Homo sapiens: one gene and its partner. The protein of the gene in region 2 purifies or fractionates together with the protein of the main gene of each other region. This does not show direct contact. Each region holds a gene or a part of one and is shown on either strand. Other genes may lie near its edges.

Evidence for each region. The genes of interacting proteins can lie anywhere in the genome.
Region 1: the proteins of UBE2R2 (region 2) and WDR4 fractionate together in Homo sapiens (co-fractionation; one large-scale study listed by BioGRID). This does not show direct contact.

What each region holds. Positions count from the first base shown.
Region 1 is NC_000021.9:42,855,368-42,859,039, forward strand, and holds part of WDR4 (tRNA (guanine-N(7)-)-methyltransferase non-catalytic subunit WDR4), read right to left. Parts: intron 414-3,672; coding exon 315-413; intron 1-314. UniProt on the Homo sapiens protein: Non-catalytic component of the METTL1-WDR4 methyltransferase complex required for the formation of N(7)-methylguanine in a subset of RNA species, such as tRNAs, mRNAs and microRNAs (miRNAs).
Region 2 is NC_000009.12:33,820,053-33,823,724, reverse strand, and holds part of UBE2R2 (ubiquitin-conjugating enzyme E2 R2), read right to left. Parts: intron 1-3,672. UniProt on the Homo sapiens protein: E2 ubiquitin-conjugating enzyme that accepts ubiquitin from an E1 ubiquitin-activating protein, and catalyzes its covalent attachment to other proteins by an E3 ubiquitin-protein ligase complex.

The sequences.
Region 1 (3,672 bases), on a different chromosome or scaffold from region 2:
GGCCCCACCCCTGCCCCACCTGGCTGGCAGACCCACAAAGGTGCATGCTCAAGCACCTCCATTCCTTCCACTTCAGAGCAGGATTAGAGGCCTTCCTGTACATTAACTGTTTGCATGCAACAGGGAGACAAATTATTTCCCACTGACATGACGAGCCACCTTCAGAATTTGAAATACGAGATTTCCCTCACACAGGAGGAAGTCTGGCATTGAGAGCAAACGTTTCCAACGGCGAAGTGACTTTTCCACTCAAGTCAGGCGACTGCCGGTGTCTACAAGCACTCAGTCGCCCAGGAGTGAACAGAAGCAGCTACCTGGGGGGCCTGGGGGTCCACCAGCTCCTGCAGACTGGCCAGGTGACAGCAGTGCAGCTGGCGGCCGCTCCTGTACTCCCAGAGCCTCAGGGTGCCGTCCTGCACAAACCAAACACACAGGTTAGCACATGGTTGTGGGGCTTCCGTCAGGTAGGGTGACAGAGAGGACAGCTGCGTGTGGTCGGGGTTCCACTCCGTGACAGCCATGCCACCCACCCTCAGGAATTAAAGGCTCTCTGCTCTGACTGTGTAAATCGCTCATGCAAATCATCAAGGACAACGGTGGGGAACGGAAGGTGACCGATTCCCTGTTTCTCGAGTGCCAATATGCCCAGGCAGATGACAAAGCCAATGAGGCAGATCCTAGCAAAATAAGCCAAGGCCGCTAGATGGCCAGGTTGTCATCCGCCAGGAGGCCAGACCACATCTGCTGTGCCCGGGCCGGGCATAGACACGGGCATGCACACAGGTCTGCGCAGACACTTCAGCAATCATGCATTCCCACGGGGAGACACGTGTGGGCTCATGAGCTCGTGGCCACTGCTCCACTTCACTAAGAATGACAGGAAGGACATGGCCATCAGCAACCGTCCCACGACAACTGGTACAACCCTTCAGGAAGCCGACACAGGAACCAAGAGGCTCCACGCTCTAAAACCATCATCAATGGAAAAAAGCGTTTCTCTTTTTTTTCTTGGTTTTATCTGTTGTTATTTTTTTGTTGTTTAATTGAAATGGGGTCTATTCCACACTGCCCACTGCACTGCAGTGGCTATTCACAGGCTTGCTCCTGGCTCACTGCAGCCTCTGACTCCCAGGCCCAGGCAATCCTCCCGCCTCAGCCTCCGAGTAGCTGGGACTACAGGCATGAGCCACCATACCTGGCTTAAAAAAAATTCATTACAGCACTAATTCAGTGGAGAGAAATAAATCAATACTCATTAAATCTAATGAGAGAGTGTCTGTGCACTATTTGTAAGTATTTTTAAATGACTAAATGAAAAAGATGAAAAGTAAATACCCCAAACAGCTAACAGTAGATGCATATCCTCTGGGTGCCGAGGTAAGAGTGGATGTATGAATGCACACACACACGCATGCACATACACACGCACACACACACACCTTTCTACAAATGTGGCAGATAAACATGGAGACCAACACACACATCTACAGGCATTTCACTCACCCCCAAACCTCTCTACGAAGACAAGAAAAAGATGTTTAATAACCATGAACCCACTAAGACAAAGACAACAGGCAAGAAGAGAAGGCAGCCGCGGAGAGACAGCAAGGAAACCTGGGGGCTGGAGGCCAGGGAACAAATGCACCAGCCACAGAGAAGCCCGAGAGGTGCCAGGACCTGCCAAAGACCAAACCGGGCCAGGCAGCCTGAAGACCAAGGTGGTGAGGGGAGCTGTCAAATGTCTTTACAAAGAGAAACGGGACCTCCCTGATGCATCCTCAGCCCCAAACTCCAGGCCAGCAGAAGGCTCTGGGGAAACGGAGCCGAGGGGCCCCTGTCTCGGGGATGCCAAATACTCACTGAGAAGAGAGTCACCTAGCCCCTTCGCACTCACCTCCCAGAGCCCCAGGGGACAGACCTGGGCAAGAGTGAAGGCCGGGACACTGACCACCCAGAAGAGACCGACTGACCCACACGTTCTACGGAGTCCACAGGCAAGGGGCTGCTGCCCACAGACACCTGCTCTGAAGCCCCTCGGGCCCCACCCTGGGTGCACACACCCAGCCTCTGAGGCCGGCTGGTGCTGACTCCCATCACACACAGGCAGATGGCATCGCCAGACATCCGAGGAAAACCTCCAATGAGAAAGGCAGACAACACACTCCAGAGAAGGCAATCAAACACAAGGCCAGGAAGAAATTGAAGAAAGAAAAGTCCACGCTCATCTCAGTGAGATAAGAGACACGTGCACTATCCGAGAATGGGTGGCTGCAAAAAAGAACGTGCCGAGGGCAAGAAAGAACTAAAGATTCAAAATAATCCTAATAAAACTCAAGTCTCCACAGAAGGCTGGAAAGTAAAGTTGAGGCAATCTCCCAAGAAGTAAGACTATTCCTAAAGGAGTAGAAATACGAGATTGAACAGGAAAGAAAAAAAAACAGAGAATTATGGCCCAGCATGGTGGCTCTCGCCTATAATCCCAGTGGGCGGAAGTGGGTGGATCGCTTGAGGTCAAAAGTTTGAGACCAGCCTGGCCAAGCTGGCAAAACCCCATCACTACAAAAGTATAAAAAATTAGCGGGGCATGGTGGTGTGTGCCTGTAATACTAGCTACTCGGGAGGCCTGAGGTGGGAGGATTGCTTGAGCCCGGGAGGCAGAGGCTGCAGTGAACCGAGATCACGCCACTGCACTCCAGACTGGGAGACAGAGCAAGACTCTGTCTCAAAAAAAATAAGAATCAGAGCATTAAAGTGGTTCAACTAACACAAGCTTTAGAAAAAGTGAGCAAGAGGCAGGGGTAGAGAACAGAAGGTAATCATGTAAGAAAATGCCCCAGGTCGGAGGACACTGAAAATCACTGGCTGTGTGGCCAACTCCCCTCTGGGGCCCACCAAGTCACCTCAGTGGCTTTCACATCGCACACTGGAGCAGAGAAAGTCCTCCAGGCAGAAGGAGAGCCCAGCTGTCACCCCACGGACCCACGGCAGACAGCTGCAGGTTTCTACAGGAAGCGCGCGGGAAAACCCACAGGAGCAACCAGCTGGAGAGCACACTGTGCAAGGCCTCCCAAGCTCCGAGGGAAACCGTTTCAACCAGGACTTCTACGCCAAACTAACAACCAGGCCTCAAAGGAGATTAAAGGTATTTCCAGAAAAGCAAAGTCAGAAAACACTGACCCTCCTCGCGCCTTTTGGCAGCTACCAGATGACGTGTTCCACTCAAACAAAGCAGTAAGCCATGAGGGACAGATGGGGCCTGGGGAGGCTTCTCTGCCCGTGGAAGATTTTCCTCATATTATGAAAAAGACTGGAAGGTGCACAACAAACCGCTGACGAAGCCTGACCCTGACCCTGACCCTCTGGAGATTATGGCCACACTTTTCTTCTTCTCTCAGGTCGCGTGGCTGTGTGTTAATTTGAAGAGCAGGAACAGGAGGCTGTGAATGAAGCCCAATCAGAGAAGAAACATAGAAGCGGCCAGAAGGTCCATCAGCCATCCTGCCACACCACACAAAGGACCAACACAGACAACACAGGGAAGGACAGCGAAGAGGAAGGTGGTGGTGTGCGGGCAACAATTCCGCAAGAGGACAGAATCAGACCCTGTGAGGAATCCAAGGCCCTCACTTTGGCAAAATCACTAACAATCCTTCTAACACATTCCTTAGAGAA
Region 2 (3,672 bases):
ATCCCTGTCTCAAAAAGGCAAACAATCATTTTCCTAAAAAAATTTTTTCAGCCAGGCGCGGTGGCTCATGCCTGTAATCCCAGCACTTTGGGAGGCCAAGGCGGGTAGATCATCTGAGGTCAGGAGTTTGAGACCAGCCTGGACAACATGGTGAAACCCCGTTTCCACTAAAAATACAAAAATTAACCGGGCGTGCTGGCACGCACCTGTAATCCCAGCTACTTGGGAGGCTAAGGCAGGAGAACTGCTTGAACCCGGGAGGCAGAGGTTGCAGTGAGCCAAGATCGCGCCACTGCACTTCAGCCTGCGCAACAGAGCAAGACTCCATCTAGGAAAAAAAAAAATTTTTTTTCAACTATATTTTACCAATTAAAGAGTCATAAAATAGGCTGGGTGCAATGGTTCAGACCTATAATCGCAGTGCTTTGGGAGGCTGAGGCGGGAGGATTACTTGAGCCCAGGAGTTCAAGACAAGCCTGGACAACATAGCGAGACTCTGTCTCTAAAATAATAATAATAGGCTGGGCACACTGGCTCACATCTGTAATCCCAGCACTTTGGGAGGCCAAGGTGGGCAGATCACTTGAGGCCAGGAGTTCAAGACCAGCCTGGCCAACATGGCAAAACCCCATCTCTACTAAAAATTACAAAAATTAGCCAGGCATGGTGGTGCACGCCTGTAATCCCAGCTACTTGGGAGGCTGAGGCACGAGAACTGCTTGAACACAGGAGGTAAAGGTTGCAGTGAGCCGAAATCACACCACTGCAGTCCAGCCTGAGCAACAGAGCGAGACTCAGCTAAAAAAAAAAAAAAAAAATTAATAAGAAGAAGAAAAAGAAAAAAAAGAAATAAAATATCTAAATGACATTGCCAGATCTAGGCTAAGTCTGGTTTGTTTTTTTAGGGGGAAGAGGGAAGGCAGAAAATAGATTCATTCATTGCAAAACAAATGAAGCATAGGAAATAATGCATATTCTCTTATTAAAAAAAAAATTATTTGGCTGGGTGTGGTAGCTCACATCTGTAACACCAGCACTTTGGGAGGCCAAGGTGGGAGGATTGTTTGAAGCCAGGAGTTCGAGACCAGCCTGGCCTATGAGACCCTTTCTGCATAAACAATTTTTTTTTTAAATTAAAACGAGTGTGGTATGCACCTGCAGTCCCAGCTACTCAGGAGGGTGAGGCAAGAGGATCCCTTGAGCCCAAGTGTTTCAGGCTGCAGTGAGCTATGATCACACCACTGCACTCCAGCCTGGGCAACAAAGTGAGACCCTATCTCTTAAAAAAAAAAAAAAAAGGTTTTGAAGAGTTTCTTTAATGTAAGTCAGTGTAGGCCAGGTGTGGTGGCTCAGGCCTGTAATCCCAGCACTTTGGGAGGCTGAGGTGAGCGGGATCACCTGAGGTCAGGAGTTTGAGACCAGCCTAACCAACATGGAGAAACCTCGTCTCTACCAAAAATACAGAATTAGCTGGGCATGGTGGCGCATGCCTGTAATCCCAGCTACTCAGGAGGCTGAGGCAGAAGAATCGCTTGAACCCAGGAGGCGGAGGTTGCAGTGAGCCGAGATCGCTCCACTGCACTCCAGCCTGGGCAATAAGAGCAAAACTCAGTCTCAAAAAAAAAAAATATATATATATATATGTCAGTGTTGAGTCTAATAAAGATGTTCCTAATAAGGAAAACTTTAAGTATACAACAAATACTTTCTAAATTATCAGACTGGAGTTTTCTAAAAATGGAACACATCTATATTTCATTACCTCAATCAAATTATTTAATAAAATCAAAACTATAAAAGGTTGGCCAGGAGTGGTGGCTCAGGCCTCTAATTAGGATTACATTTTGGGAGGCTGAGATGGGCAGATCACTTAAGGTCAGGGGTTCAAGACCAGCCTGGCCAACATGGTGAAACCCTGTCTCTACTAAAAATACAAAAAGAATTAGCCAGGTTTCATGGCGCACGCCGGTAATCCCAGCTACTCGGGAGGCTGAGGCAAGAGAATCGCTTGAACCCAGGAGGCAGAGGTTGCAGTGAGCTGAGATCGTGCCACTGCACTCCAGCCTGGCAAAAGAGTGAGACTCCATCTCAAAAAAAAAAAAAATTTTTTTTTGTTATGCATATCATAAAAGAGGCACTCTTTCTGGCTCTAGACTCACTGCTATAATGCTTTAGATAAATAATGCAAAAGTTCCAAGGAGGTTCAGTACTAAAGCACCCACACTAAGCTACAATCCTTAGCAGGAGTTATTTGAAAAGATAGTTCCAGCCGGGCATGGTGGCTGACGCCTGTAAAACCAGCACTTTGGGTGGCTGAGAAAGGAGGATCCTTTGAACCCAGGAGTTTGAGACCAGCCTGGACAAAATAGTGAGACCCTACCTCACTTAACAATACTGAAGAAAAAAAAATTAGCCGGGCGTAGTCATGCCTGTAGTCCCAGCTACTCAGGGGGCTGAGGTGGGAGGACTGCTTGAGCCTAGGATGTGGAAGCTGCAGTGAGCCATGATCACACCACTGTACCCCAAACTAAGTGACAGAGAAAGACCCTGAAAAAGTTCCTTTCAAAAGAAAGGGGGTGAACTTGTTAAAAGTCTTCATTAGCTACTGACTTGATCCACAATTTATTTTTCTAGTAACAATAAAATTCCGACTTGCTTAGGTAGCAAAATAAGAAACTACACAAAAAGATAGTAAGGCCAAAAAAGATTGTATAGTATTCAGAATGGACAGAAGAAACTATCTTTGCCCATCCTACATCTATATGGCCCAAAACTAAGAATCACGTGGATTGGCGATATTAAATAAGCGAAAGCAGGATGAATAAAAAAATTCTGTGAAATACAGGTCTCACAAATCTCCAATGCAGATCCTGTGGGTAAGAGACAAGAGCCAACTATTTCAGGGTGAAAAAGATCAGTTAGAAACCTATTAATATATAAAAGTTAAAGGAATTACAGTATGAAAAATGTAAAGAATGACTGGCAGTCCCACTGCCTTCACGAATGACTATGCCAAAAAGGGAAAAGAGTTTAACTTGAAAATAAATTATACTAAATGTTCAAGGACTAACATTTAATAAGGGAGAAGAGTGATATGGTAGGGAAAGCTTTGTGCCAACTTTCAACTGCAGCTGTAGTGAAATACACTAAAAGCCTTGTCTTAAGACAAAAGCAGTAAAATAAAAACAATGGTTTTAAACATATCCCCAGTGTCAACTGCTCATGACCATAAATTTGCCTTTTTCTAATGAACAACTAATGGGATAAAAGGCCATATAAGGGAAAAAGTAGTCGAAAATACAATCGAACAAACTTCTCACACAAGACTAAACCATAAAACCTGTTTACAAATTTTCATACATGTCAGAATTAAAGGTAAAAACACTCAAAGCTTAAGAAATCTAACATCACAAAGCACGAGATTAAATCATTCTTTTAAACAAGGACTGAAGTTCAGAAGCATTTAATTTAAATCAGTGTATTAACACAAGGAATCCTTCCATACTTCCTATTTCAGAGAGGGTTCTCCACACTCCTTTCCCAGACTTATGCACAAATATTACAACTTGCAACCCATTATTTTCTCTCATGTACAAGTTTTGTTTTGTTTTGTTTTGTTTGCTCTTGTTTTTAACTTTATTGGAGTGAGATTATTCTAACTAGTACCCATTT